2 separate regions of the Homo sapiens genome follow, and region 2 is linked to region 1. The links come from fine-mapping of genetic effects on gene expression. A gene starts in region 1. The other region holds a variant in brackets. All regions are shown on one strand. Distances are between the middles of the regions.

Evidence for each region. PIP is the estimated chance that this variant, and not a neighbour inherited with it, causes the effect.
Region 2: its variant is fine-mapped to the expression of LINC01191 in whole blood (INTERVAL, PIP 0.92).

The regions. Positions count from the first base shown.
Region 1 is chr2:113,971,993-113,987,603 of GRCh38, forward strand. It overlaps LINC01191 (long intergenic non-protein coding RNA 1191), which reads left to right and starts at 7,577. Exons shown (of 2, transcript NR_148509.1): 1 at 7,577-8,136. It overlaps LINC02992 (long intergenic non-protein coding RNA 2992), which reads right to left and starts at 7,992. Exons shown (of 1, transcript NR_034130.1): 1 at 5,677-7,992. RefSeq lists an enhancer at 7,445-7,594 and a silencer at 7,685-7,874.
Region 2 is chr2:113,937,043-113,952,653 of GRCh38, forward strand. ACTR3 (actin related protein 3) reads left to right here. Exons shown (of 12, transcript NM_005721.5): 7 at 2,917-3,060; 8 at 5,144-5,317; 9 at 14,437-14,529; 10 at 14,678-14,803. Among named protein-coding and RNA genes, the nearest start is that of LINC01191, 35 kb to the right of the region's middle. The variant A/G (reference allele first, on the strand shown) is at 8,185.

The DNA of each region.
Region 1 (15,611 bases):
TATTCTTGTCACTCTAGAAATTCTCCTGTGCTTCCTTCCAGTCCATCCCCTCCCTACCTGGAAGCAGTCACTCTTCTAAATGTTATCCCCATAGTCTAATTTGCCTGTTCTAGAAATCCATATAAATAGAATCACGCAGGATACACTCTATAGCGTCCTGCTCCTTTTACCCAACATTGTATATGTGAGACTTGCCTGTATTATAGAAATCAATAGTTCATACCATTTTGTTGTTTAGTATTTCTTTTCTGTTGCTGAGTAGTATTCCACTCTTTTATCTTTTAGTCTTTCCCTCTCCTCCTGTTGTCCTCAAAAGCACTAACTGTGCTTTCTTCAATAAAAGCCAGGAAGCCTTCACCTGAAGCCAAGGATGCACAGGGTGCTTATTTTTTCATGGAATAGAGGAGGGAAAAGGCAGCACAAAAAACACAAGTTAGTATCTCAGGCAATTGGTCTGCCACATAATTATTCAGAGAAGAGACTATGAAGGCCTGGATTAGGGTGGAGCATGGGAACAGGGAGGAGAGGGGGCTATGAGAAGGCTAGTGCAGTGGTGGCATTGATGGGATTTAGGACATAATTAGACCTGGGGAAAGGCAGTGGAGGAAGGCCAATGCTGAGTTGTTTAGCCTGGGAGGTGACTGAGGTGACTGGTGTAGAGGTGAGGATGGATGTTGGTACAATATCTAGAATAAGAGGAGCCTATTTAGGAGGGAAAATGGTAAGTGCAGTTTGGTACCTGTTGATTTTGAGGGGTATATTGGAGATAATATCCATTATCTAGAAACAGATCGCTAGCAGAACTGAAAGTGAAGATAAAGAGTAATACATGAAGAGGTGAATGCTGAAACCTTGAGAAAAGAAAGGTAAAGGAGGGAAATAAGCCAAGAACAGGGCTTCGGGGAATGGCATGCAGGGGACCCAAGGAGGAAGAAGAGCCAAAAAAGGAAGGAGGGGGTGGCCACAGTATTATGAGTGGGAGCAGGGTGTCCTGGGAACGAGGAGAGCAAAGGACATGAAAGAAATAGCTGGCAGAAATGCCAAAGCCTACAGAGAGATGACAAAGATAAAGACTGAATAAAAGGTCATTACATTTCCCAGTTGGAAGATCACTGGTGGCCTTTGAGGGATCAACTTAAGAAGGGAAATGGGAATTGAAGAGGATTGCAAGGAGACCTGGAGTAAGGGAGAATAATGAGACAGCTCCAATCATTGGAAACAGCTCTTGTTATTTTTTTTTTTTTCAAGAAATATGCACTTAAAGAAGGAAAAAAGCTCAATGGTTGCGTGAGGGCTGGAGGATAGGTTGGAAGCGGGTTGCTTGGGTTAGTTCTCCTGGAAGCCTCGAGCATACCTGTGCGCTGAGGCTAAGGAGGCAGAAGTGAGAAGGGGCGGGTTTTGACTCAAGCTCCCAGAAGAGGCAACAGATGGTGGGATGGAAAGTGAGAGAAAAGTGGATTAATTCTGGAAAAGAGTGAGGGGTCAGTCCTCTTCTTGGAAAGCAGTGGAGGAGAGGATGGGTGATACATTCCAGGATGAGGAGGGAGCAGTCCCAGCTCTGGTTGTTTTCCAGCATGACCACAACCCCTCAAGAGATTTTTTTGCTGTATTTACTCTGAATACATGCGATTTATAAAATGTGCCCTTTAAGGACCAGGAGGCAGGATTTTGAAGCAGCACCTATAAAGGAGGCCTTTTCCAACAGCTCCAGGCAAGACAGTAGAGATGATCCCCCAAAAGTCAATCGGTAATCACTCTATCGTGTTCGTAGCAAATGGCAGCAAGTCCTAGGTTAGGAACCGTACTATGAAGTGTTAATAAGAGACACTGGGCACATGTCCTCTGATCAGATTAATCAGAGGCCAAACTACACGGCATTAACAACAGACATTAGCATTGGCTGGGTAGGTTGGCAAGGCGAAAGTGGGAAATACCAGACCTTGGATTCAGAAGCACTTGTCTGCACTCATTTTCAGAATTATATCTGCAGCACAAAAGGGACTCCCAGCATGTTGAATTGGCTTCACAATTAACATGATGCTTGGAAGCACACGGTTTGCTCAGGCTTGAGTTGTTCTGTGCTGCTTGAATGCACATCCGTTGGTGGCACACACAGGGGAGCAGTGATGCTGTGGTGTTTTCTACCTGACCTCCACAGGCCTGGCTATGTCCTGGAGGGCTCTGCTTGCTAGAAATTTGGCTACTCTGTAAAGGAATGTTACAGTTCTTGGAAATTCTAGTGAGTGTTCTCAGTATGCCCAGTGTGACAGGCCCAAATATACATCTATTAAACATACAGGAATGTATTTGTTGACCTTCTAGGGAGAAGGCACGTGTCCAAAGCTGCCCCACTTGCTCACATTGTGGTGGCTTCTGTATTCTGTATTACAGATTTTATCACTGATACCTCTAGAAAAAAGTGTCACTTCCCACCTCCCTTTCCCATTCCTGTGGATCTTGAGAATTTTTGTCAGTTTCTTCTCTTATCATGGTCTAACCCCAAACAACTTACAGTGGGTGCCACAGGTGTTAATATACAAAAGAATAAACAATATAGCTAGGATGATCTCTTCTTTCTGGAAGATTACTGTACACAAAGACACTACTTTTTCTAAACATTTAGAAATGAATTCCTAGAATTCTGTCATTGCAAACTGAGTGGGAACAATTCAGAAACTGAAGGCTGCAAGGGTTTGTCTCCTTCCAACTTCAGCCTTCCTTTCCCTCTCCCACAATGACCCTGGCCTTTTTGTGTGTATAAATTACCTCTGTCTGGGGTTGGATGGGGCACTGCGCTAAGCCTCTGGGAGAGGATGTGCTCTAGGCCTCCAGGAACTCATACGCTGTGACAGATGGTGGCAAATTAAACTGGCAGTTGAAAAAGCCAGAGTGTTTCCAGGGCTTCTGCTAGAGGAGTGGTTCCAGAGGGGTAGAGTCAGGCAAGATGAATAGCTGGAAAGTGGCCAAAAGCATTCCGTGAAAACCTATGTAGAAGAAGCTATTCCGGACCCTGTGTGTGCACACAAAGATAAAAGAGACCTATTTCTGTCCTATAATCTAGTAAGATTGACAACACACTGAAGGGAGCAGGGACAATGCTAGGCTGAATAGGAGTAGGAACAAAGGTTTATATGAGAGTGAGCCCAAAATTATAGCTGTAGTGTGGAAATGTGTGTGGATGGGTGAGCCTTGAATGACATGGTAAGAATGAGAGAAACTGAATGCTGCGGCTGGCCGGGACCCTAGGGATGACCTAGGCAATCCCCTCAATTTAAGCATGAGGAAACTGAGATCCCTCCCCAGCAAGGTGAAGTGACTTGTCCAAGGTCAGGGTCACTTAGGTACTTGATACTCAGTGATTAATAGCACAAATAATATCACCAGCGGCTAAGATGATCAAGCACCTATTGTACTCACTAGATTAATCACATCCTCACAGTAGGTTATTTTCGCTTGACAGATGAAGAAACTGAGACAGAAGAGGGTAAGTACCTTGCCCAAAGTCATGGAGCTGGTAATTGTTGGAAATCATGAGACTCGCACAGCAGTTGGGCTCCAGGGCCTATGCTCCTAACCTCTGAGCTACATGGCCCCTTGAGCCTCTAATTCCTGGGCCAGTGCTGCTTGTCCTTGAACCGGGCCTGGAAGGGGTTGGGGAGACACTGTACTCTCCTAAACAAGGGAGTGACCTGATGCAGGTGGCATTTAGTGATGCTTCATATGGCTTCAGTGGTCAAGGTGGACTAGAGAAGAAATGGAGAAGGGAGACCAGGTAGGACATGATCTAAATCCAGTTGTGATGCACATCTGGACTGCAGCAGGAATGGAAGATGGCACTGGACTGGAATGATTAGTTAGCAGTCATTTATTCTACAGTGTGAATTAGCCTGTCCTGTTGCTTATCCTGTGGGAAAAGAAAAACAACTGAAGGAAGGAATGGAGAGAGGGGAGAAAATAAAAAAGAGGGGAGGAATAGTATGTAAAGGGAAGGGCAAAGGAGCAAAAGTAGAAATGGAACAAAATTGATGATGACTTCACAATATTCCTCACCTAGTCCCTGGCCTTTTGGGTATAGTTTAATTTAAACCATCTATTTCTGTCAATTTCTCATTGAAGGAAGAGAACAAGAACAATGCCATCTCCTAGACAGCACGAGACCTTAACAAGGTAGTAGAAATCTCATGAGGAACCCAGCTGGTGTTCACAGATCAGGAACTCCCACAGGGAAGGACTTGCCACCCCACTGCTAGGACCCCATCAGAAGACGGCCCCATCAGCATGCAGCAGACACTGATGGGACCCCATTAGCAGACAGCAGACAGCTAGCTCTATGCTATAGAGACCCTCCTCATCCAAGGTCGCAGCCTTCGTGGGGCAACCCACATCCAGTGACTGACTGACACAGAAGGACAAAGCCAGGCCATTTTAGCCCAACATGGGCAAGCCTGACAGGCCATTAAAACTCCAAAGCTCCCTGTAGGGTGGGCCAAGACTCCTGCTGTGCCCTCTCACAGCTCAACTCCTCCCTCTACCCACTCCTGCCTCATCTCCCTTCCTTCCACAGGTATGGATCGGAGAACACTCCTTAATAAATCTCCTGCCCACTGAACTCTGCTCAGAGTCGGCTTCTGGGGAGCCCAGGCAGCATCATGGAGATTCTCTCTGGCTGCCTCATCTCTCCCCACCAAAACTCCAACTTCCTTTTGGTTAGGGAGTGCCTCCTTCCTCCTGCACCATGCACTTCCTCCACAAACCGTTTACATCATGGGGGATGATCTTTCCTGTGGAGACAGCCTCTGCTCTTCAGCTGAGGCAGAGGCTTAGTGGCCTCCCTTGCTGAAACCTTCAAACAGGCTTGGGGCAGGTTGGTTTATCTCCCCGTTGACAGCAGGTGTATACGGAACATGGAATCCCTTAACATTTTTTTGATTAGAAGCATGTTTTTTTTTTTTTTTTTAATTTCTGTGAGACCCCCTGGGTCAGGCTTCAGGATCTGCTGATAGACCTTCATCAGCAGGGGTGTGTGTGTTTCTGTGTGTGTGTGTGTCTAAATGTAAGTAACCACCAGAGCCTGCTTCAGTAATCAAGGGGAATTCATTGTTATAACAGAATAACCCATGAAGTTCAAGGGCCAGAATGCAGCCCAGGGATGTGGACTGCCTCAGGGCATAGGCAGAAGGGCCTCTCCAGCTGTCTCTGCTCTGGGCTGGTACTCACTCTGCAGGCCAGGCAGGGCTGCTGCTTTGTGCACATGGCAGCAGCAGCATGCCCCTAAGCGCTGGGGTCCACCCCACCGCAGATCCAGCTGCACTTGTTCGTGGTTTCTGAATACTGGTTCCAGATCTCAAGAGAGTGAGAATCTGACTGCCCAGCTTGAGCAAGTGGTCAACCCTGCTCACCCTGCTGTTTGGGGGCTAGTCCCACAAACATGGCAGACACCCCCGACCTCCTATAGGGGGTGCAGAGTCTCAGAGAGAGGGGCTGTGGTGAACAAAGGGGACAACCCTCCACAAAGGGCCCATGACACTGTGCGAACATGCCCACAGAGGGGTGGGTGCACCAATTAGAAAATGTTCGCATGAGATATGACTAGATTTCCCAAGAGACAACTCTCATAGATCAATGTGCCTGTCACGGAGGAGCAAGGAGTACGCTTGGAGAGGAAGAGGCAATGGGTAGCTATTTAAATTCATTGTAAACTGAGAAAACTGTAAACAGGGATGACGCTGCTTATGACATAGTCACATACACAGTGTCACATAGTTAAGGGGATCAGCCACATTGAGTGTGGATCTCTCCTCCTCTCGGAGCAACGTTCCTATTGACATTCGGAGAGGCACGCTGCCCCCAGATGCTCATTTTCAAACACAGGACGTGAGCAGTTTCACAAATATCCACCAGATGGTACCTTCCTACCAGAAATTAGGTTTCAGGTTGTGAAAATCCAAATTGTTTTTCCATTCCACGGACAAGCTATAGAATTAGATGCCTATCCTGGCTACGGTCAGAGGAAAGAAAATGGGTGAGAACCAATTCCAGGGAACGACCCACGGAGTTTTTATTCTCAAGAATACCAAACAGAACTTGCAGGGTCCTTTGTGTGGTGGAGGGAGGCAGCTGCTGTGGATGAGTCATGGAAAGGCCATGTGCAAGGGAAAGACCTTGAGGTTATCTCCGGAGAGGGGTTGGTTGTAAACATCCTCAATGGCACCTTTGTTTTATCCCACTAGTTGCCAAATACCTGTGATTCTGCACAGCGCTCCTGGAATGCTCAGAAATTATGACTGGTTACTCTGTCAAAGAAAGTCTTTGTTGTAGAAACTTCCTCATTTGTTCAGGCCTTTGGGTTCTAAGCCCTGAGCCATAGTCTCCCCCGGTTGTTTGCCTGTGTGGGCTAGGGAGGGTGACTGATGTTCACCGTGGGGTGACCACCTTGTCCTGGTTTGGCAGCTGCCTTCCTGCCTTTAGCAGTGACAGTAAAGCAAACCCAGGCGGTTGGTCATCTCGGTGCACTGAGCTGTACACACCAGGGACAGTGCTGGATCCTCACGCAGGTTCAATGAGCTGGGCGATTTGAGGTGGTAGATGCCGTCTTCACATGATTAATCATTTTGTTCTTGGCATTTTCCTAGTAGGTCTCCCTGCTTCCTTTTGCCAGAAAAGGTAAAGTTCTGGAGAAAGAGGTTTTTTCTTGGCTTTTGAGTTCAGGCCTTACAGAGGTAAAACCGAGTAGATGTGGGAGAACATGTGGTAAACAGATACAACTTTCCCGGGATGGGGAGAGAAAAATAGTGAAACTCCATCTCCACTAAAAATACAAAAACTAGCCCGGCGTGGTGGCACGCGCCTGTAATCCCAACTACTTGGGAGGCTGCGGCAGGTGAATCACTTGAAGCCGGGAGGTGAAGGCCGCAGTAACGCTGTTCCCTGCATTGGATGAAGTGCTCCCCACCAAACTCTCTCACCGGAGAGGGTGGGATCTGCGGGCTCCCTGGGTGGCTTGATTTCGACACCCTGTGGGCTGCCTTCCACTCTGGTACTTTCCTCTGCCTGCTGATGCTTGAAATTCCTTGAACCGGCCACACACACCTGCTTTCTGGAATCAGAACACTGGAAAGGCTTCCTGGGACGGGAGAAGAGTGATTTACATTCCTGCCGAGGTGTAAAGCTGCGGATGGCAGGTTCTCTCCTGAGAACCGGCTTCAACTAGGAGGAGGAGGTTGGAAGCAGGACCCCGAGCTGACCTGTTGACCAGGAGAGGAGTAAGCAGAAGGGAGGCAGGAGCGGGCGGAGGAGAGAAGGCCGGGGAGCCGGGATGGGGGTCACCGCCCCCGGGGAGCCGGGATGGGGGTCACCGCCCCCGGGGAGCCCGGATGGGGGTCACCGCCCCCGCCCCCGTGATGCCGAGCTGAAAAAGACAGTCTCCAGGTAGGATAATCCGTCACACTAGATGCATATAGCTTCATGCAAGAAGAGCGACTGTTGCGCTGTCTTCTACCCCCTTTGGCCGCGATCCCGTGACAATGCCGGCATCCGGGCACCAACTGGCTTTTGCGAACCGCTCTCCGCTCCCCGCCCGGATTCCGAAGCCCGGAGCCGTTTACAGTTTGAGGCGCCGTGTGCCGCCCCCTGGTGGCCGGAGGCCGTTACTGTCGCGGCTGAGGGGGCGTCCCGGTGTATCCGCAGCGCGCCCTGGCCGCCCTCTGGTGGCCGGAGGCCGTTACTGTCGCGGCTGAGGGGGCGTCCCGGTGTATCCGCAGCGCGCCCTGGCCGCCCCCTGGTGGCCGGAGGCCGTTACTGTCGCGGCTGAGGGGGCGTCCCGGTGTATCCGCAGCGCGCCCTGGCCGACCCCTGGTGGCCGGAGGCCGTTACTGTCGCGGCTGAAGGGGCGTGTCCCGGTGTATCCGCAGCGCGCCCTGGCTGCCCCCTGGTGGCCGGAGGCCGTTACTGTCGCGGCTGAGGGGGCGTCCCGGTGTATCCGCAGCGCGCCCTGTCCCGCCATATACATTCCGTGCTTTTCAAACACCCGCCGTGGGCTAAGCATGGGACCCACGTGGGGCGGGGACACACGGCGATAAAGAGCCAGGCCCTCGCTGCCAAGGAGCTTTCCCGTAACACCGATGCATCAAACAAAAGGTAGTAAAAGTGCCTGGGTTTTTGCGTTGAAATATCTTTCCCTTCAACTCCCCACAAGGTGCTTTTACTCCCCGTCATCACCACCGCCTGCCAGAGGCAGTAAACTTGGGTCCAGCGGGCCCCTGTCAAGCTGCATAACCACACAGTGAGAGGCTGTCTAGAGAAAGGCGTTTGTTCAGGAGCAGAGCGTTGCAACGGTAACACGCATGTCATAGTAAACTGTGCATATTCGAGGAGGCAGAGGAAGAAAGGAAGAGGAAGGTTTTCAAAGAGAAAGTAAGGAGGATTTCATAATTGTTTTCAAATGGTTATCCTTGGCTACAGAGATCAATAACAAGGGGTTGCCAGTCCAAGGTTAGACAGGCAGTTGCTGGGCGAATGTCCTTGTGGAGGTTTTTTTTTGTTTTTTTTTTTTTATATATATGTGTAAGGCTGTGATGGCCTTTGTGCAAGGTTATGGTTTTGTAGAGCCTTTTGTGTTAGTTTTTGTTATCAGGCATACAAGTGTGGGAGTGCTTTCTTCTTAGCTTTCCCTAGCTCTATTTGTCAAGTTTTTTTTGGTTTGTTTTTTGTTTTTTTTTCCCAAGATGGCGTCTTGCTCTGTCACCCAGACTGGAGTGCAGTGGCACGATCTCGGCTCACTGCAACCTCCACCTCCTGGGTTCAAGCGATTCTCCCGCCTCAGCCTCCTGAGTAGCTGGGAGGTGCCCGCCACCACGCCCAGCTAATTTTTGTATTTTTAGTAGAGACGGGGTTTCACCATGTTGGCCAGGCTGGTCTCGAACTCCTGACCTCAGGTGATCCGCCTGCCTCAGTCTCCCAAAGTGCTGGGATTACAGGCGTGGGCCACTGCGCACAGCCTGAGTTTTTTTTTTTTTAAAGAAAAAACATTAGTAACTCCATTTTGATTCTTACAACTTCCACACCACCTAGCACTTTATCTCCAACCCTCGGGGACAGCTGGTCTTGTAGACTCTGGCAATTCTAGACAATAACCTCACAGACAAACCATGATTACTCATTTCCCTGGGGCATGGCTGCTCTCAGCCCTTCTACATCCCCAGTCCTACTTATTTGCTTATCTCCTGGCCAGGCAAACCTCCTTTCCCCATGAAGTCCTTCCATGCCTGCTCCAAACCCACATGGCCTCTTTATTCTCAGGACTTCTCTCTACCATTATTTTTTTCGTTTTTTTTTTTTTTTTTTTTTTTTTTTAATTTTTATTTTCCAAGTAGACGTGAAGTTCCCCGATGGCTGAGGCTGTGTTACACCAATTTTCTACCCATCCTTCCTTCTTAAATTATGTCCCAGAGCTCCCAAGTTTCTCTTTTATTATGTACAGAAACTGCCTTCTTCCTTTCAAATATTGGGGCTACACTTAGGCCTCATCAACATATTCCCTCACCAGAGATGGGAAGTAGTTAAGTCAGGATAGGCTAAGTTATTGGCAGTAACAATCCTCAATCTCTGTGGGTTAAAATAACAAGGTTTATTTCTTCCTGATGTTTCACAACTACCGTGAATCACTTAAGGATAGGGTTGCCAGATTTAGCAAAGAAAAATACAAGACATTCAAATTTGAATTTCAGATAATCGGCGAATTTTTTAGTATAGGTATGTCTCAAATGTTGCATACTAAAAATTATTATTTTTTCCTAAAATTCGGGTGTAACTGGCCATCCTGTATTTGAGCTGACAATCTTGCTGAGGGGTCTGCTCCGTCTCCTCACTCAGGACTCAGGCTAACGGTGCCTCCACTCGTCAATAGCCCAGAAGAGAGAAAGGGGATGTGGTAATTTGCACACTGGCTCTTGGAGTGTTTTTGGATGGAGTAATCTACAACACTTCCAATCGCATGTCTTTGGTCAAGGCTAGCCAGGAGGCCATTCCTAACCTGGAAGGGGTGGGGAAATGAAGTCCTACCCTGTGCTCAGAAGAAGTGAGCACTAGGTTATTGGTAAACAGCCCAAATCACTACCATGGTTAGAGGTATTTCCATAACTGCTGTTAGGAAAAACTGATTTCTCCATCTTATTAAAAGAAATTAGAGGTGAGGGTGGGGGTGAAGGCAAAAGAAAAAAACCAGAAATTTGTATTAAGCATAATCTTTTTCCTTGTAATTTCTATCTAGTGGTTAACCATTGCTTTCTAGTGAGCAGAAAATAGCTTTCCATACCCACTTAAATATGTGAAAATAAGTAAATGTTGCATTCCCTTATCTTTTCTTCTCAGGATTAGGTGCCTCCCCATTTTTTTTTTTTTACCACACTTTCCTCATACGATGTAGTTTCCAGAACTTTATTTACCATTGATAATATATACTAACTGAATTGTAGCAGGCTGTATTCACTAAGTGAGCCAAACCGCGCCCAGCCTCATTTTATTATTATTTTGTGGTTCTAGATACAGACTAGACTCAAACATAGAAGAAAGCAATTTATTTTGAGATGGTGGCAAGTCAGGGGAGCCTCTAAGTCCTACTTGTTGGAGTTTTTTGGTTGCCCTGTGACCTCTCGCCTTTGGCTTCCTCATTAGATATTAAAGACATTGGCGGTAACACTGGAATGGATGTGAAGATGGGAGAGGTCTACCCATAGCCCATTCTACAGAGCAGAACTGAGGCTCAGATATTGAGGTAGATTAAAGATGGCTGCCAGTTCAGTGCCACTTGTCCCGTTGAACTGTGAAGTCTTATCCCCCTCCTTGGGTCTGCACCAGCCTTGATGACTTGCTCACTACAATGTGGTAGAAGTGATGGTGCATGACTTCCAAGGTTAGATCAGAAGAAGCCTTGAAGTTCCTGCCTTGGTCTCTTGAAACAACTTACCGTGTAAGAAGTCTGACACCCTGAGACCGCCATGTTGGCACAGTTATGGGTGGATGCTCCAGTAGATGGATCCAGCTGAGCCCAGCCCTCCAGCCATTCCCACCCCCAAACCATGGGTGAAACTGTCTTGGACCCTCCAGTCCAGCCCACTCAACATCTAAATACCACAGACTGACCTCAGCTGATACCATCACCCAGTTAAAATGTGCCTGAAACTGACCCACAAAATCATGAGATAAACTAAAATGGTTGTTGTCCTAAGCCACTAAGATAATAGAGCAGATATATATGCACTTAACACTCTCTCCCGGGGGTCTGCTTTTCCTTTCCCCATTTTGTGTTGCACGCCTGGTTGTTCTCACAGATTTCATGAGTGGGGAGGTGTGATGAGCCTGGGATATTCATCTTCAACAGAAACAATCCAGATAAACTCTTCATTCAAACAGGGTTTGGGCTGCACTGCAATTTTGTTGTCAAATTGGATTTGGAGGTGCTCAGGTTTAGCAAGCACTTCCATGGGAAAGAGAACTCTGTTGGATGGTAATGTAAGAGGACTCTGTCTACAGAAATAAGGTGAGACAGCTCAGTGCAGTTTAACAATTGTGCCATGTGCTTAACTAATCTCTTTCTTACAGTTACTCTTTGAAGTGAGTATTGTTTCCATTATACAGACAAGTAAATTGAGGCCAGGCAGCACAAGCAGTAAGTGCCAGATGGGATTTCAAACCAGGCTTGTTTACCAGATAGGCTACCATGAGGTTAATGCCCAAGAGACAGACCTAAACATTCATTTTATAAATGAGAAGACTGAAGACCAGAGAGATTAAGTAGTTTTGCTGCTGTGCTCTATAACTAACCACGCCTTTTCTGGCCAGTAGACTCCAGCCTGATCCTCAAGGCTCTCTGGAGTGTAGGCCAAAGCCATGCTGAGTGAGTGTCTTCGGGAGTGCTATTTTACGAGGGAAATAGAAGAGATGATATCTGTACTTCCATTTCTAGTATGTTCCCAGAGAAAGCAAGTCCCTGATCACCTTCTGTTTCATTCGTGGCAGAAGGCTGGGGACTGTGATTTGGTGGATGAACAGTTAGTACCTCCAAAATGCTGGATTGCTGTCATGTGCTTTTCTCTGGAGAGAGCATCCTCTCAAGAAAACATCCATCCCTGTGATCTGGCAGAGGTCACAAAGATAGTTCCATCTTTGCTCCACAGCACGGAAAACGGGAGATATAGTAAATCAGTGGAGCTATTCTGGGATCACAGGCTACTCAAAAGACCATTCCTGGCTTCTCTTGCATCTCTCAGGCTGCCTGGGCGCGGGACCCAAGTCAGCATCCATCAGCAGCAGGGGGAGTGGTGCAGAGGCTGGTGCGGAACGTTACGTATTTACAAATAGAACAAGGACCCGGTGTGACTTGGATAAAGAGAAGTCCAAATAGGGTCAGAAATTCTAAGTTGAAATCACTCTGGAGATTAAGTATTTATGAAGCACTTTGTACCCACAAAATGAATTTGAATCATTTATCATCCAAACTCACAGTGTCATAGTAACATATAAGTATCTGGGTTATGGCTAAGGACCCAAACTTGAACTACTACCTGTATAAAAAGGGGACATTTTTATGCACGTGGGTCCTGTTTTTAATGCTATTGTGGAGCAAAATCAAGAATTTTAAAAATAAATACCTGAGTCTTGATCCAGACCCATCATGACTGTGGAAACCTGTAATTCTCTCCTGTGACACTTCTGAAATGGTGGCTCTCCTGTCGCAGGCAGCAGTGAAAGGCGGATTCTTTCCGATGAATCTCTAATAACCCTCCCTTCTTTGTCTCACAACGTGGTGATTTGCCTTGTGTAGCTCTTTATGTTCTGAGATGAGCAGATGACAGATTGGGATGCTGGAGATTTTGAATGTGCACACGGCTGAGAAGACCACGCCAGTTGGCTTACATGCCGAATTCAAGGTGAAAACTGCTTTGGGTTGTGGTAGTTGAAGCTGTTTGCAAAATCAGGAGCTGACTGTGGCTCTGCTGGTTATCCAGAAGCCTCCAGGAAGTCATAGTACATCTCATTTCTCCTCTGACTGTTCAAATGACCTCTTTCACAAAAATACTTCTCTACTTAATCTACCCTCTCTCCAATTGTCTAAAACCCCACTTTACTTCTTAGAATTATTGACCATAGGATCTAAAAGGAATTGTATAGATTATTTCATCCAACCTTCTTATTTCATTAATGAGGAAACTGAGAGTCTAAAATGTTAAAATAAGACTAGAATACAAGTATTTCAAGTCTTCTTTCAATCTTGTAATGTTTGATTTTGTTAAACATGTATCCCATAGCTACATTGAATGCTTTTTACTTTGGATTCTTCTCCATTCCCTAGTATGCCTTACTCAGGGCTCATTCATAGCACAGAAATGTCTGATCAGCAGTTGACTGGTAGTGGCTGCCTGGAGTGCTCTGCTTAGGAGGAGCCAGCGGAATAGATCTCACGGTTTCTCTCCAGATGTGACCTCTACTGAGATAACTTTGATCACCCTAGCTAAAAAGTGTCGTCTCTCCCCGATTCCCTTAGGCACACATTATCCCCTTTCCTTACCTAATTGTACTCCTATCACCTCTCATTAACTAAAATTATTTTTCTTGTGTATTGCCTTATTTCCCCACGAGAATGTAAGTTCCAAGAGGGCAGGGACTTTGTTTGTCTCAACCACTGCAGGGTCTGCTGTGCTTATGAGAGTGCTGACATGTAGGAGTCACTCAATAAATAACTGTGGAATAGATGGCCAAATGCTGCCATTGATTAGTGATGTCTGCCGTGGGCAATGGAGAGACAAATTACTGGGGTCAACGCAAAGCTTTTGTCACCGGTGGTTATTGGCCAACCAACCAATCCCAGATGCAAGACTGGTTTCCTTTTGACATTCAATTTAATTCTGGGCCATTGTGGGATAACCAGTTATTAGATACTCTGGAAGGAAGAATTCCCTGAATCACTAGTTAGGCAACTTAAAAGAAGAAAGGCACATTTTCTGCTATCTCTTCTCCTCATTGTCTTATTCATCATGACACTTCTACAACGTTGCAGAATTCTTAGCACATAGTAGGCGCACAATAAATATTTATTCACTGATAATTTGTGCTTTCTCAATGTCATTTTAAGAGGATTTTGTAAAACTTTCCTGCTAATCTGAAAGAGCTGCACCACAGAACACAGTATATAGCTCAAAGTACACAGTACGTATTGGTGTGCCTGATTGAGACTCAGGTGTACAAAGCCATGAGCAAAGTTCAGGTAAATATCCAAATTAAACTGTTCTAAAGTAGGTTGAGCAGCATCCTTTACCTTAGCCCTGAATATTGGCTGTTCTTAAAGTAGGTTGAGCAGCTTCCATTACCTTAGCCCTGAATATTGGCTGTTCTTATCCATCTTCTCCTTGAAGTCAATATTTGAAATAGGCTTTTGTGAGGCAGGAGAGGCTTAAGAAAAGTAAAAAAACCAAAGAGGGATTTAGTGCTTAAATATATTTATGAATTCATCTCAATTTCTCTTTATCTCTTTTTAAAGAGCTGTGGTATATGTGAAAACGTTTGTAGCAGGTAGAGGTTTTTGAAAATTGGCTCATTTTTAACCCAGTCGATACTGTTGTTTCATGTCAAAAGCAGGATATGATGCAGTGCCCTGATAGATCTGATTTACTGTTCTCTAGGACTCTGGGGTTGTATACCATCTATACTCTCCCAAATTTGATGGTGTCAATATGACCTAACGTTTAATTATTTGCATAGCCTATTTAAAATTAAAATAGCAACAGGCTCTGAGTTCTTTTCAAGCTTTAATACACTCTCCCTTTAAAAATATATTTTTCATAAATTACTCTGCTGTCTGGCAGGCCATCCCATTCTTCAGTTCCTGTAATAAAAGGGGATGGTGTGATGTGGGTGTGAAACGCAGAGGAGAGCACCATGGTTAAACAAGAGCGGACACTGATCAAATCCATTAATCAAAGTGCCTTTTAAATCTCTGCAAGTTGAGAACTGTAGCATCCAGGGATTTGATTAAAGAGGAAATATAAAATGGCAGAAGAGGCCAATAGCTGCCTGGGCAGGTCACCTCTCAGAGCCCCTGATTAATGGAACGTGGCTTTCAATGGAATTTGTTTTCTCTGAATCATCTTTTGGAGCTTATTTGCTAAGAAAAGGTGGATTTGAGCTGCAATATCTCCTTGTGGCTATTGGAAAAACACCAATACGGCAGAAACTTGAAAATCTCTTCAGGCTGGCCTCTTATGCCTTTTCCTCTTTGGATTATCCCAACTCCCCTGATTTCCACGTAACCCAAATAACTTCACAAGGGTAACATCACTGTCCAATTTCAGTGTTCTAAAGGCAAGGATTCCTAAGCACTATTGAAGCAGGTTTTTACCCTAGAGGTGAATACCTATTATCATCAGTGCCATTCAGTCGTTTGTTGGCTTGTTTGTTCATTATTTTATTTAATCCATTTATTCAGAAATACTTCTTGAACATTTATGTCTAAGCCCAAAATTATATGTCAGAAGAAAGGTGAAAAGCCTCCGTGCCTGTCCTCTAAGTGCCTTCAGTGTGGTGGAGAGAGGTCAAGAAACACCTGCTATAAAATACGG
Region 2 (15,611 bases), 35 kb before region 1:
TCAGCATGGGAATTTGGTGGGGAGGAAAAACACAATTTACCCAGTAGCAAAAAGTTATCTTTAAAAGATAACTTTTTTGGAGACAGAGTCTTGCTCTGTCGCCGAGGCTGGAGTGCAGTGGTGCGATCTCAGCTCGCTTCAACCTCTGCCTCCTGGGTTTAAGCGATTCTTGTGTCTCAGCCTCCCGAGTAGCTGGGATTACAGATGTGCACCACCACACCCAGCTAATTTTTTTGTATTTTTAGTAGAGACGGGGTTTCACCATGTTGCTCAGGCTGGTCTTGAACTCCTGCCCTCAAGTGATCCACCTGCCTTGGCCTCCCAAAGTCCTGGGATTACAGGCATGAGCCACTGTGCCCAGCCTTGAAATTGAGTTCTTTTATTCACGTACCATATCTAGTGCTCTCTATTCCTTTGTGAAGGTCCAGATTTCCACCTAGTATCATTTTCCTTCTGTCAAAATGACATCCTTCAACATTTCTTATAGTGCTGATCTGCTGGCTTTGAATTCTTTCAACTTTTGTACATCCTTTGAAAAAGTCTTTATTCTCCTTTAGTTTTGAAAGATGATTTTTGCTTGGTATAGAAGGTTGACAGTTTTCCCCTGTAGATGTCACTCCACTGTCTTCTGGCTTACCTTGTTTCTGAAAATAAGTCAGCTGTTATTCTTGTGTGTGTTTCTTTGAATGTAATGTTTATTTGGGTGGCTGTCTTCAAGATTTTCTTTTTATTCCTGATTCATTGGTTTTTAGCAATTTGATTGTGATGTACCTAAGTAAAGTTTTCTTTATGTCTCTTCTCCTTGGGGTTCATTGAGCTTCTTGTATATATAGTTTGTAATTTTCATCATATTTGGAAAGTTTTTGTCTGTTACTGATTACATATTTTTTCTCTTCCTCTTTTCTCTCCTTTAGGTACTCTAATCACATGTATATTAGGCTGCTTCACAGTGTCTCAAAGATCATGATGCTCTGTACATTTATTTTTTTATAATCTTTTTCTTTTTTTTGGATAGTTTTTATTGCTCTGTCTTCAAATTCACTATTTTTTCTTCACTGTGTAGTCCACTGTAATCTCATCTAGTGTTTTTCTTTTCATCTGGTAGATTTTTAAATTTTAGATACTGTATTTTTTTCTTCAGAAGTTCCATTTGGGTCTTTTTATATCTTCCATTTCTCTCTTCCTCATCCTCATTGTTGACCTTCTTCATTATATGGAGTATATAGTTGCTGTTTTATTGTCCTTGTCATTCCTCTGTATTGTTTGGTTTTTCTCCTCGTTAAGTGTTGTGTTTTTCCGCTTCCTTGCATGCTTATAATTTTTGATTTGGCACTCTATACATTGTTGTGTATTGTATTTTTGGAGTTCTTTATAAGTATTTAGGATTTTTTCCTGGGACATAGTTAAGATACCAGGAACTAGTTTGATCCTCTCAGGGGCTCCTTTTAAATGTTATTAAGCAGGTCCGTAACAGGTTTTTGTCCAGGGCTGGTTTGTCCCCATTCTTGAGGCAATATTCTTCTGAGGACTCTACTTCATGTCTTGTGTTTGAAAACATCTTTCAACTTTGGCTAGTGGGATCAGGAACTATTTCTGGCTATGTGTGAGCTCTGGTGGTGGTTCTGTCTACTTTTTTCTAGAGGTCCTTTCTCTCACCTTGATGGTTTCCTCACAGGAGTGTGCTGATCAGTATTCAGTTAAGGAGGTACTCTCTTCACATCTTCCCAGCTCCCTGTTGGTTCAACTCCTCCCCCTCCAATAATTTGGCCTACAAACTTCAGCCACTTTGGCCTTTCTGACCTTTAAATTCTATATCCCTAACTTAATGAGACCAGTTTGAGTTCTCTTTCCTATTGTTGTGGCCTAGTAACTCTCCCTAGGCAGTAGGATAGAGTGTAACATTCACGTTATTTGTTTCCCTTTTCTTAGAAAGTATCTCTGCCCTACTCTGCCGATTGTCAAATGTCTGAAAACCTTTCTTTCTTTCTTTTTTTTTTTTGAGACGGAGTTTCGCTCTGTCGCCCAGGCTGGAGTGCAGTGGTGCGATCTCGACTCACTGCAAGCTCCGCCTCCCGGGTTCACGCCATTCTCCTGCCTCAGCCTCCCGTGTAGCTGGGACTACAGGCGCGCGCCACCATGCCCGGCTAATTTTTGTATTTTTAGTAGAGACGGGGTTTCACCGTGTTAGCCAGGATGGTCTCGATCTCCTGACCTCGTGATCCGCCCGTCTCGGCCTCCCAAAGTGCTGGGATTACAGGCGTGAGCCACCGCGCCCGGCCGAAAACCTTTATTTCTTATAAATTGTCCTGTTTTCTCTTTAAATTGAGAGGGTAAGTTCAATCCCTAATATTCTGTCATGCCAGATGAAGGCATCCTTAATATTCTTTCCTAATGAAATTTAATTTTGCCACACTATTTGTTATACTTCTGACACATCAGTAAATTTGTGAATCAGTTCTACAGAATTTAGTTATTTGGCATTATGATGGTGTGTGGAAAGCTTCAGGTTTGTGAAATGGATACATACTTGATTAGGAAAATGATAAGCACTTTGTCACATTTCTTATGAAGCAATCTAAATTTTTTACTGAAATTATAAATGATTTAAAAATAGTACCATCTGATATAAAGTCTGCTATCTAAACCATTTGATATTTATATTTTGAAATTTATTATTTCTATATTGTTGAGTTATTTTAGTCATAGTTATAAACTGTCAGTGGGAAAATAAATCTAAGTTGCTGGCCATTCTTAGTTATAGTTTCTGAGGAATAAAGGTAAGTTCTGAGATAAAGCAGTACTTGAGACTATAAATACACTAACTTAATAAATTGGTCTTTATTGGTTCATATTTTTGGGTTATATTAATTTTCAAAACATTGAAAGTAAATTTGGTATCTTTTTTCCCCTCTCTAGGCTGAAGGGTATGTGATTGGCAGCTGTATTAAACACATTCCAATCGCAGGACGAGATATAACATATTTTATTCAGCAACTGCTGAGAGACCGAGAAGTAGGAATCCCTCCAGAACAATCCTTGGAAACTGCTAAGGCAGTAAAGGTAAAAAGTGTGATAGGAGTGTAATTTAGTTAAAAATTAAAATCACATTTATAACATTAACGTGAGAAATTTTTAATAGAAGAAGAGTACTTGAAATAATCTTGTTAACCAGTTATAAATTATTACCCTTAAATATATTTACATTTTCTTTGTGTTTCTTAAAAGAAAATTATTACAGCAGTTTGTCTTCTGTTTTCTTCATATTTTATATTTGAGAGGAGTAATATAAGAACATTTTACCAAATGACATTAACATAAATTTTTGTGATTATTCTCTTTATTAAAAATAAATAATTATTTCACTATAAAGTCCTTGCATCTCAGTTTCTTCACTGAATTCTTTATTTTAATTCTAAAAGCTTTTGTCATAAAAATTATTTTGATACAATTGATTCATTGTGCTATAGTATAGAAGCAGTGCTTGGCTCAAGTGATAGGGCACATAGAAGAAAAACATGAAGGCTATCTAAAGTATTTTATTAATTTTTTTCTGCCATGTAAGTATTATATCAGTGCTTCATGCAAACTATCAAAATACTTTAGCATCGTCTTTCAAACTTATTATTTGCCACATAACCAAAAAATTTCAGTGGGTTTCACGTGTTTTGAAAAGCAGAACTGCCATGGCAAAAGTAACTTACTTGTCTCTGTTTCCATGGTTTTTTTTTTTTTAATTACCTGTAAATTTTTAAAATTTTTAATTTCTTATTTTTATTGATTTTTTTTTTTTTTTGTAGAGATGGGATCTTGTTCTGCTACCCAAGCTGGAGCGCAGTGGCACACTCGTGGCTCACTGCAGCCTCAAACTCCTGGGCTCACGTGATCCTCCCGCGTCAGCCTCCTGAGTAGCTAGGACTGCAGATGCATATCACCATGTCTGGCTAAGTTTTTGTAGAGATGGAGGTCTTGCTATGTTGCCCAGGCTGGTCTTGAACTCCTGGCCTTAAGCAATCCTCCTGCTTCGGAATCTCAAAGTGCTGGATGTGAGTCACCATGCCTGGGCCTCTTTGCTTGTTTATGGGATTTTCCTTGCTCGTCAGAGCTTAAGAATGAAAATTTATCAACTACTTCCTAGGTAGTAAATTAGTAAATGACTACCAAAAGTTACCCCAAGTTGGTGGCATAAGAATTAAATATATAAAAAGTTAATGTGAATACTACTGATTCAACATCTTTGGGAAATCTGTGAAATTAAAGCAAAACGAGAAAACACCAGAGATTTAAATCTATTCCAGAGAAGATTGATGGTCATTCTGAATGTCTTTAAAGGAATATCATTTCTTTGTCATTCTCACTTCCAAGGTTTGGAGAAGACCTCAAATAGTGTAATCAAATGTCTTCGGATTCCAGTATTTTTTCTCTTTGTGTATTTTGATTATTACTGGTAATATTTGCATCTATCTTGGATGGTGCCTGTGATGTGTAAAAATACTGGAAAAGGAAGTTTTTTTAAAAAAATAAAACAAATATTGGTTGGCAGTTGGGAGTTTATAAATTACAAATATGATGTTATAATCTATAATATATTTTTCAGTGTTTTTGATGAAAACTTTTACTTAGGTCATATAACCAAATATGCAACAAAATAGAGTAATTTATATTTTTAGCCTTTTTTCTTTGCTCTTTTATTTACTCAGACCGTAATCAGTTTTGTTTCAGATAGATATTAAGGATCTATATTAATTTGTGTGGTTATCACAATTATTACTTATTCTTCAGTTCTGTATTTTATTTATTCTCCTTACCTACAGCACAAGATTCATTATTACTGAGACAGAAAATGTTGAATGACATTAGTGAACATTTTCAGGAAATAACATTGAAATAGTAGAAGTCAGCTCTCCAGTCTCTCAAATACTGTTTATATTTAAAGTCAGAAAATATGTGTAGGAGATGAGTATGTTTATTTGTACTACACATATGATAATATCCTAACAAATTTTTCTTCCAGCTTAATTTCCTAATTTTATTTTCTGAAGAGTTTTTTTTTTTTATTGGATTATAGTTTACTGAAAACATGCCATTCTTCTTTACTGTTCCTATAATAAGCAAAAAAAGTTACTTTTGTTTCTTTGTTTTTCAGGAGCGCTATAGTTATGTCTGCCCAGATTTAGTAAAAGAATTTAACAAGTATGATACAGATGGGTCAAAATGGATTAAACAGTATACTGGAATCAATGCTATCTCAAAGAAAGAGTTTTCTATCGATGTTGGTTATGAGAGATTTTTGGGACCTGAAATCTTTTTTCATCCAGAGGTAATTTTTTTTAACGGAATTGTTTAAAAGTATTCAGCAGCAAATATGAATTAATAGATATTCAGAGAGAATTAATCTCAGAAACTTTTATTAGTACACTAAAAGTTTGAGTTTTTATGAAAAGTTTATAAAACATTTTATGAACTTTTTAAAGAAAAAATTTGCTTTTGTTAAAATAAGCAAAATTGTTGCTATTTTTTGCAGATTTAGAAAAAACTTTTTAAAAAATATGTGTGGCTTATGGGGGGGTCATGAAAAGAGGAGAGCCCTTAAATTTTTTTTTTCTTCCCTCCATCATGGACTCAGGTAAAGTTTTGTAATTGAAATAAAATATTTTGGGAAAGGTTCTAGAAAGCTCCCCCCCTCCCTATTTGTGTAAAATGACCATTATACAAAGAACCTTCAATTAACCATTAAAATATATAACTAGTAGCAAAATAGTCTTCTGTCTATGAAGTTTTAGCAACATAAAGGCTTTATTAAATTAAGAAATACATACTTTTAATAATGGAAAATTCTTCTGGTAACTTAGTATCAGAATTGTAACTTTATTAATAGAATTACTAATATTACGTACTTACTCTGCTTATTTAATGTTAAGAATAGTTATTTTTAAAATTTTGTTTATTCACTCAGCAAATGTTAAATGGTTTGAATTTTCATGATCTCAGCTTAAGCACTGGGTATTCAAAGATGAAAAATTATTTTATCTTGCTCTTACTGAGCTCAAAGAATAAAAGAGATGAGTATTTAAACACGTAAGGTTATAGTTGCTTTAATGAGTGTATGTATCTGCTGAGGGCACAGGAACAAAGAGCATGTAAGTCTGCTTGGGAGAACATCTCAGGGGAGATAATGGTTGAACTGAGACTTAAAGGATGAATGGGTGTTTGTCAGTCATGTGTGGTAGGGGAGTATATGTATTTTTGTCAGAAGGTTAGCTAGGCAGAGGTCTTAGACATGAGAGTGCTGGAAAGAAAAGTATAGAGGACAGATTGGTAGGAGAGGGATCCAGATAGGTATTCATGGACCCAGTCTTGAAGGGCAGATATGTTATGCAAGGGAGTTAGCTAGATTCTGTAGTCATGCAAAAATTTTAAGCATAGAAGATAATTGTGTACCATATTAGAAAGGTTACTCTCGCAGCATTGGTTTGGACGGGTTGGAACAGAGGTGTGAATTGTGTTGGAAATAGGTGATTTTACTATAGTATTTTAGATGAAAGATGAATAGTATTTGTGGGTCAGTGAGAATGAGGAAGGAGGTGAGAGAAAAATAGAATCAACATAATCAGTAATTGCTTAGATATGAGGGGAGTAAGAATATGAGGAATCTGTGATAATTCACAGGTTTGTAACTTGGGCAACCCAGTGTGCCATCCACTGAAATTTGTAATACTGAAGGGGAGGAGTAGGTGAAATAGACAAAGATGAGTTTATTATATGCATCTTTTAAAAGGTTCAAAAACAAACACTTGGGTGTTGTAAAGTCATCACCCTTTGTGGGGCACAAAGGAAGAGGTTGGCTGAGAAGGGGCTGTGGAGTAGAAAGGTGAAGAATAGGGCCTTCGTGAACACAGACACGTGGACAGGCTGAGTAAGTAGAGCCTGCAAAGAATACTGAAGATGACAGAGAGGTAGAAGCCAAGCTAAAGGATTATGGTCATAAAATTGAGAGAAGTGAATGTTTCAAGAAGGGAGGGTAAATAGTGCCAGTTGCTGCAGTGAAGTAACATTAGAGGAAACCTTAGAAGTACTTGGAGTTTTTCAGCATCTAGGTTATTGATGATCATAGGGGAGGCGTTTCAATGGAGTGATACGTTAGAGCAGCTTGTTACTTATCTCAGTGAGAGGTGAAGGTTTGGAAATCAGCAGTCTGGACATTCTGAGAGATGGCTATGAAAGAAAAAGACAGTGGACGAGTAAGAATTCAGTTGCAAGAATAAGGCTCAAGATAGTTTTAAATTTTTAAGAGGGCTTACTCCAGTTACAGGAGGGAAGGAATTAAGTATAGGTACAGGAAAATGAACTAGGAAGGGCAGAAGCACAGGTAGGTAGTTGAAGAAGTTCATCATCATAGTTCATAGTTTTAATTTTTTTATGAGGTGGAATCAAGCTTATGTTTTGGGAGAAGGGACTGGACTAAAATTGAGGCCGAAGCGGGCAGATCACGAGGTCAGGAGATCGAGACCATCCTGGCTAATATGGTGAAACCCCGTCTCTACTAAAAAAAAAAAAAAAAAAAAAAAAAAAATTAGCTGGGCGTGGTGGTGGGCGCCTGTAGTCCCAGCTACTCGCGAGGCTGAGGCAGGAGAATGGCGTGAACCCAGGAGGTGGAGCTTGCAGTGAGCCGAGATCACGCCACTGCACTCCAGCCTGGGCGACAGAGCGAGACTTCATTTCAAAAAAAATTGAGGGCTTGTGAAGAATAATGACTTTCATATTTACTGTTGAGGGGAATTGAGAGGGTGACTAGTGAGTACATATTAATAGTATGGGGCATCCATTCTTTACTCAAGGTAGCAGGTTAGATACCCAAAACTTTTAGTTGTGCAATAGTGTCCTCTCGCCTCCCCCAGACAGTTGTGGGAAAGGAGGAAAAGGTTTTGATAAAGCAGAGATTAAAGTATTACAGCATAGAGGAGAGAGCAAGTCCTGAAAGCTGAATTACCTAGGGATAGTGAGGGTACAGGTATTGGAGATCATGATGAAATGACACATAATAATTGTGAATTGGTAGCAGAGGAGTGAGCATGAGAAGGATAAGGAATTGTGGTCAGACTAGTATACTGGAGTGTGAAGGTTTTTGGTGGTACATTTTCTTTGCACTTTATCAAAACATAAAGATTAAGAGGATGTATACACACA[A/G]TTTTAAAGGTCAAATAACACTGACAGACTTAAAATTAGCAGCTCTTCACCCTCCTGCTGCCATTGTGTTCTATAGAGCATCCACTAGCTTTTAGTTATTGCTCTTGGTAGTAACCCCCAGATTTCTAAATACTGTGATGGTATTGCAGGAACATGGATGGAGCTGTTTCTTGATATGTCACTGTTAGTGGTTTAAATGCTAGCCTCCTTTCAGATTAGTTCTTTCTAGACTCTCTTTTCTTCCAGCCTGCCAACATGTTAGGTTATTGTTATTAGGTAAATCAATAGTATTGTAATATTTATAGTATTATACCTGAGACTGTTGTTCACTTTTGAGGCAAGTAGTGTAATGTGATTCTTTTCCCTTAAAATTCAGCTTTTCCTACACTTTCACCTTGTTTATTCATTTGCTTCATTTTCTTTTTTTTTAACTTTAAGTTCAGGGGTACATGTACAGGTTTTTATATAGGTAAACTTTTGTCATGGAGGTTGTACAGATTGTTTTGTCCCCAGGTATTATTAAGTCTAGTATCCGTTAGCTATGTTTCCTGATCCTCTCCCTCTTCCCACTCTCCACCCTCCGATAGGCCCCAGTGTCTGTTGTTTCCCTCCGTATGTACATGTTTACTTATCATTTAGCTTCCACTTAAAAGTGAGAACATGCAGTAATTGGTTTTCTGTTCTTGCACTGGTTTGCTGAGGATAATGGCCCCCAGCTCCATGCATGTTCCTGCAAAGAACATGACCTCATTCTTTTTTATAGCTGCATAGTATTCCATGGTGTATATGTACCACATTTTCTTTATCCAGTCTACCATTGATGGGCATTTAGGTTGATTCCATGTCTTTATTTTTGTGAAGTGCTGCAGTGAACATACATATGCATGTGCCTTTATGATAGAACAATTTATACTCCTTTGGGTATGTGGGATTGCTGGGTTGAATATTTATGTTTTAGGTTCTTGAGGAATTGCCACACTGTTTTCCACAATGGTTGAACTAATTTACACCTAATATACACCAAGAGAGTATAAGCGTTTCTTTTTCTTTCCAGCTTTGCCAGCACCTTTTTTTTTCTTTTTAAATTGTATTTATTTTTTAAAAATATTTTCTCTTTCCTTCATTTTTTAGGAGGGATGGTGTGAGAATATTTTTTGAGTTTTTAATAATAGCCATTCTGACTGGTATGAGATGGTATCTCATTGTGGGTTTGATTTACATTTCTCTAATGATCAGTGACGTTGAGCTTTTTTTCTTAAGATTTTTGGCCACATATATGTCTTCTTTTGAAAATTGTTCATGTCCTTTGCCCACTTTTTAATGGAGTTGTTTTTTCCTTGTATATTTATTTAAGTTCCTTATAGATGCTGGATATTAGACCTTTGTCAGATGTGTAATTTGCAAAGATTTTCTCCCATTCTGTAGGTTGTCTGTTTACTCTGCTGATAGTTTCTTTTGCTGTGCAGAAGCTCTTTAATTAGATCCCATTTGTCATTTTTTGCTTTTGCCATCTTCATCATGGAATCTTTGCCCATACCCGTGTCCAGAATGGTATAATTTGCTTCATTTTGTTTGTACAGTCATTTATTCATTCATTTATTTATTGGGGTTTGAATTAACTTTCTTGTTATACACGGTCTGGAAGGGAACCGAGGAGGGTGGGTCTCATTCTATATAGAGGATTTTAACAGTTTCTTTTCCAAACAGGATTGAAATATTGTATTCATTGTTTTTTTGCCCCCTGATTCATCCTTGGTCATTTACCTTTCCTTTTAATTCTCTTGCTGTCATTTTAGCGGAGAGTCAAGAGACGGGAGAGATAACCACATGTAGCTGGAAGTTAGGACAGATTTTTGTATGGGCCATTTATATGTGAGTAGATTAATAGAAGTGTGTCAGACCTCATTTCATTTAAGGCACATCAATTAACTTGAAATTGAAATCTTAGAGAAGAATATTAAAGCTCCAAGTTGGGGACAGGAATTAGAAAATTGCAGAAGATCCTGAGCAAATGTCCTGCATGAATAGGATCATGACCACACGATGGATAATAGCATGGGATATAGGAGATGAGCATTTGAATGGAATATGCTTGACAAATGAGCTTAGCTGATGCCTTGGCTTTCTTAAAAACCTTGAAGTAGGCTGGTTGTGGTGGCTCACACCTGTAATCCCAGCACTTTGGGAAGCCAAGGTGGGCGAATCACTCAAGCCCAGGAGTTTAAGACCAGCTTGGGCAACATGGGAAGAGCCCGTCTCTACCAAAAAAATACAAAAAATTAGCCAGGCATGTGGCGTGTGCCTGTAGTTCCAGCTACTTGGGAGGCTGAGGTGAGAGTATTGCTTGAGCCCAGGAGGTCCAGGCTGCAACGAGCTGGCATTGCACCATTGTACTCCAGTGTGAGCAACAGAGCAAGACCCTGTCTCATAAATAAATAACCCAAAGCTTTAGATATGTAAATAAAATGTGTTTCATATTGCTTAGGAAAGGTATAGTTGGCTGGATGAAAATGTGTCTTGCTGCTAATGTTTCATATATCATTTTTTCTATTAATTTGAATAACCTTTATTGTTTCATACACCAATTTTTCTTTATTTTTTAACTTTAAAACATTTTCTGTTGTCTATAGCTTTATGTTCCTTATAAGTAATTTCTTCTATGAGAAACCTGTTTCTCTTTTTAAAAAACCTGTTTTGTTTTCTTTTTTTTAAAGGCTGTTTTTAAAAATCAGTTATATATATGCACATGGTTTAAAAGTCTTGGTCTGCGTATCCTAACAAAAACTAGGGGTGCCCTGCATGTTTCTTTCTCTTGTTTTGTATTTCTAGAGGTAACCACTTCAAACTCTTCTTAGTTGCTTCTTTTGCTGATTACCTCCTTAGCTATGAATTGCTTGGTTATATTGCAACTTCAAATTTTTTTTCAGTGTTAGGCTTTTCTTGTTTTCTTTTGGAAACAGGGTCTTGCTCTGTCACCCAGTGCAGTGGCTGAGTCATGGCTCGCTGCAGTCTCCCCAGGCTCAGGTGATCCTCTCACCTCAGACTCCCAAGTAGCTGGGACTACAGGTATGTGCCACCACTTCCAGCTAATTTTTGTATTTTTCGTAGAAACAGGGTTTTGCCATGTTGCCCAGGCTGGTCTTGAACTCCTGGGCTCGAGCAATTCACCCATCTTGCCCTCCCAAAGCGCTGGGATTATAGGAATGAGCCACTGTGCCCAGCCCTGTGTTAGGCGTTGTCTGTCGAATTCCAACTATGGAAGAGGAAGATTGTCTTTTTTATCCTTCTTCTGTCATCACAGACAGGACCTTTCTATTCCCTTTTCATCTCATTTGTTACATTATAATTTCAAGTAGGTTGAAATTCAGTGCTTATGTTTTTGTGACCACAAATTTTGTTCATATCTGAGCCATGTAGTTAACCATGAAATCTTTTCCCTTCCTATAAGTAACTTTGTTTTCCAAGAAGTCATTAATAAACTGTTTGCTTAGTGCTAAAATAATTACCATTCATTCACCTCCAAACTCTCTTCAGTAGTTATATAAATCTCTTCTCAGGATATTCAGATGTATAGGGTTTATTCATCAGTTTAATTTTCTGAAGTGTCTTTTACATCCCAATCTGAACTTGCTTCTGTCGGTTCCCAGTATAGAGTTGCCATATTCCTTTACTATCATTCTAGGGATTCCCTTTCCCTCTCTCTTGTGTTGGATCTCTTTTTCGTATATCCTATGTCTTTTTCACTCCATTTACATGATCTAAATGAAAAGATTTTGTATTAGTATGTGTCACTTTGATAACATTAAATCTCTTTTCATTGTATGCGCAGCCTGTAAATAATTTAGAACTAATCTTAAAAACTGGAAAAAGGCAGGGCGTGGTGGCTCACACCTATAATCCCAGCACTTTGGGAGGCTGAGGCAGGCGGATCACCTGAGGTCAGGAGTTCGAGATCAGCCTGGCCAACATGGTGAAACCCCGTCTCTACTAAAAACACAAAAATTAGCCGGGCGTGGTGGCGGACGCTTGTAATCCCAGCTACTCGGGAGGCTGAGGTAGGAGAATTGCTTGAACCCAGGAGGCAGAGGTTGCAGTGAGCCAAGATTGCGCCACTGCACTCCAGCCTGGGTGTCAGATCGAGACTCGGTCTCAAAAAAAAAAAAAAAAGAAAAAAAAAAAGAAAAAATTGACACATGCCTAATAATTATCAATACAGTTATAGACTCAGTTTAATAAATAAAGGAATAATGTCTCTCAACTAGGACAACCTAATGATAAAAATGAATGGCTGAGGAGATATACAATACTTGTTTGTTTTTCACTAATTAGAGCTAGATTTTGATTATTTATTTAGAGACAGAGTCTCTCTCTGTCACCCAGGCTGGAGTGCAGTGGTGTGATCATAACTCAGTGTAACCTCGAATTCCTAGGGTCAAGCAATCCTTTTTCCTCAGCCCTCTCAAGTAGCTGGAACTACAGGTGTGTGCCACCATGCCTAGCTAGTTTTTAAATTTTTTGTAGAGACAGGGTCTCGCTATGTTGCCCAGGCTGGTGTCAAACTCTGGGTCTCAAGCAATGGTCCTGCCTTGGCCTCCCAAAGCACTGGGATTATAGGTGTGAGTCACCATGCCCAGCTTCAAGTTGTTTTTTGTTTTTGTTTAAGTTAGTTTTTTAAAAAGTATGTTTTTCTTGAGTGCCAGCTGTTTGGAAATAGTAAGTTTATTTTGACTATGGTATATCATCGTTTGAATATATAGCTGATGTTTGTTATTCAAAGTAGATGTGCCAAAAAGTTCTTGAGAGCGCTGAATTAGTGAACACTGAGCTAGCTATTGCTCCTAGGGGAAATACAGTATTAGGTTTCTTTGAGCCTCTGGTAACATTTTTGTTATCCCATTAACATATACCCTTGTTTCATGTGTGTTTCTTTTTAAAGGCACTGCATTTAGTATATCATTTTAGTATATTCATTTATATTCAATAGCACTAGAACACATGTCTGAACAAAGCTATCTAACTTGCTTTTTCTCTGTAAGACACATCACAGCCTCCTTGTGTTTACTAGCCAGCACTTGAGCAGTATGCTTGGGGGCCATTTTAAATAATGAAATCACTAACAAAAATATGAAAACCGTGCCACTAAATAGAACTGTGAAAAGGACACTTGTTTATAGTATGAGAGCTGAAACTAGATAGCAGAGTATCATCTTGTTCAACCTCAATGGGGAATGTGCACATCAGTGGACTCAAATTTTTGTTGCTCTACACGTGCATGTCCATGAATAACCATATTTTGATTTGGGGAGTAACAAATATGTTTTAGCGATTAGGTAAATTCACAAATATGGAATCATGAATAATGAGATTAGACTACATTTATTTATTTCATCCCCTATTGATGGACTTAACGGGTTTTTCCTCTTAGAAACAAGGCTATAGTAAATATGCATATGTAATAGCATACATGTTTGGGGAGTTTCTTCAGAGTTTGTTGTAAGAAGTGGAGTTACTGGTATGTGCATTTAAAATTTTATTAGCTATTTGTATTAGTCCGTTTTCATACTGCTAATAAAGACATACCTGAGACTGGGCAATTTATAAAAGAAAGAGGTTTAATTGGACTTATGGTTCCACGTGGCTGGGGAAGCCTCACAATCATGGCAGAAGGCAAGGAGGAGCAAGTCCTGTCTTACATGATGGCAGCAGGCAAAGAGAGAATGAGGAAGACGCAAAAGCAGAAATCCCTGATAAAACCATCAGACCTTGTGCAACTTATTCACTCCATGAGAACAGTATGGGGGAAACCACCCTCATGATTCAATTCTCTCTCACCAGGTCCCTCCCACAACACGTGGAAATTATGGGAGTACAATTCAAGATGAGATTTGGGTGGGGACACAGAGCCAGACCATGTCACTATGTTACTATTGCCAAATTATTCTCCATAGTGGTTACATCAGTGTATACTCTCACAGCGTTATATGAAAGTTTCCATTTACCCAGATTTTTGCCAGCTCATAGTATATGTATGACTTTACATGTTTGCTATTCTGATAGTTATAAAATGGTATATATCATCATAATTTTGAGTTTTCTCTGATTTCAGTGTCTTCAATCTGAATCTGTTAGAGACCAGTATTAGTGGTTTCTAAAAGGCCTTTTGTTTTTGAACTGAAAACTTTGTTTAACCTTTTATTGTGATATTTGTCAGTAGTGATATGATCTCTATTATATATCCAACTTATTTTTCAGTTTGCTAATCCAGACTTTACACAACCTATCTCAGAAGTTGTAGATGAAGTAATTCAGAATTGTCCTATTGATGTCAGACGTCCTCTCTACAAGGTATTTATAGCAAAATTGTTATTCAAGGTCTTACTTTAAAAAAACTTAAACACCTCTCATAAAAAGGATATAATAGCATTTCAGTACTATATATTATATCTTTAAACTTTTCTCTTTTTAAATATTATATTTATTTTCTCTCCACTAGAATATTGTCCTCTCTGGAGGTTCAACCATGTTCAGGGACTTTGGACGTCGCTTGCAAAGAGATTTGAAAAGAACTGTAGATGCCCGGCTGAAATTAAGTGAGGAATTGAGTGGTGGTAGATTGAAGGTTGGTTTTCCCAATTATTGGTGAGAAGGTTGAGGGTGCCTTCCTTGATTAGGATGAGAAATATTTGCCAGCATTCACTCTGATTTAGAAAAATAAGAGGAACCTGTCAGGTATTCTAATGGAAATGGTTAATGTTATAGATTTATGTCTGTGATATTCTGGATCATTTGATTCTTCTAGGATATTGTCTGTATTTCTGGAAAATAATTCTTAGTAATACCTGTGGAAAGACTTTTTTTTTAAATACCTCTCTCATAGATAATTAATATAGTAGATTTCTTTGCATACACCAACAATCAAATTAATTATGGATCCACAAAATGTTTTATACTATAGAAGGACAGCAAAGCTGAGTTGAGATTGATGCCATTGTTGAGTAGTCAAGCCTGCTCTCAAAAACTGACTTTAGCTCCCACATAGCAACCTCAAAGTGTGCAGTCAAATCGGTGGTTTAATAAAGTAACCTTTGTATTACATGTCCTGGACCTTTAGGCTTGAGGTTAAAAAAAATCAAAATTAATTTAAAATTCTTAGATGTCTACTTTCTATATTTAGAGATAGATTCTTCATTTTTTTCATCCTTGTTAAATATTGAAGCAGAACGTTGATTTAGAGGAATGATATGGCTTTTTTCAAAGCTGTTTGAAAAAAGGTATTTCATGTGAATAAAATACCTTCTGCTTGGAAGATTACCAAGAATGAGGACTTTATCTGAGACTTCCATAATCATTCAGAATTACTTAAAAGTAAAGCACAGCACTCTAGGGTTTGCTGATTGTTGAGAAATTGCATGATGGCTGACTGTTGT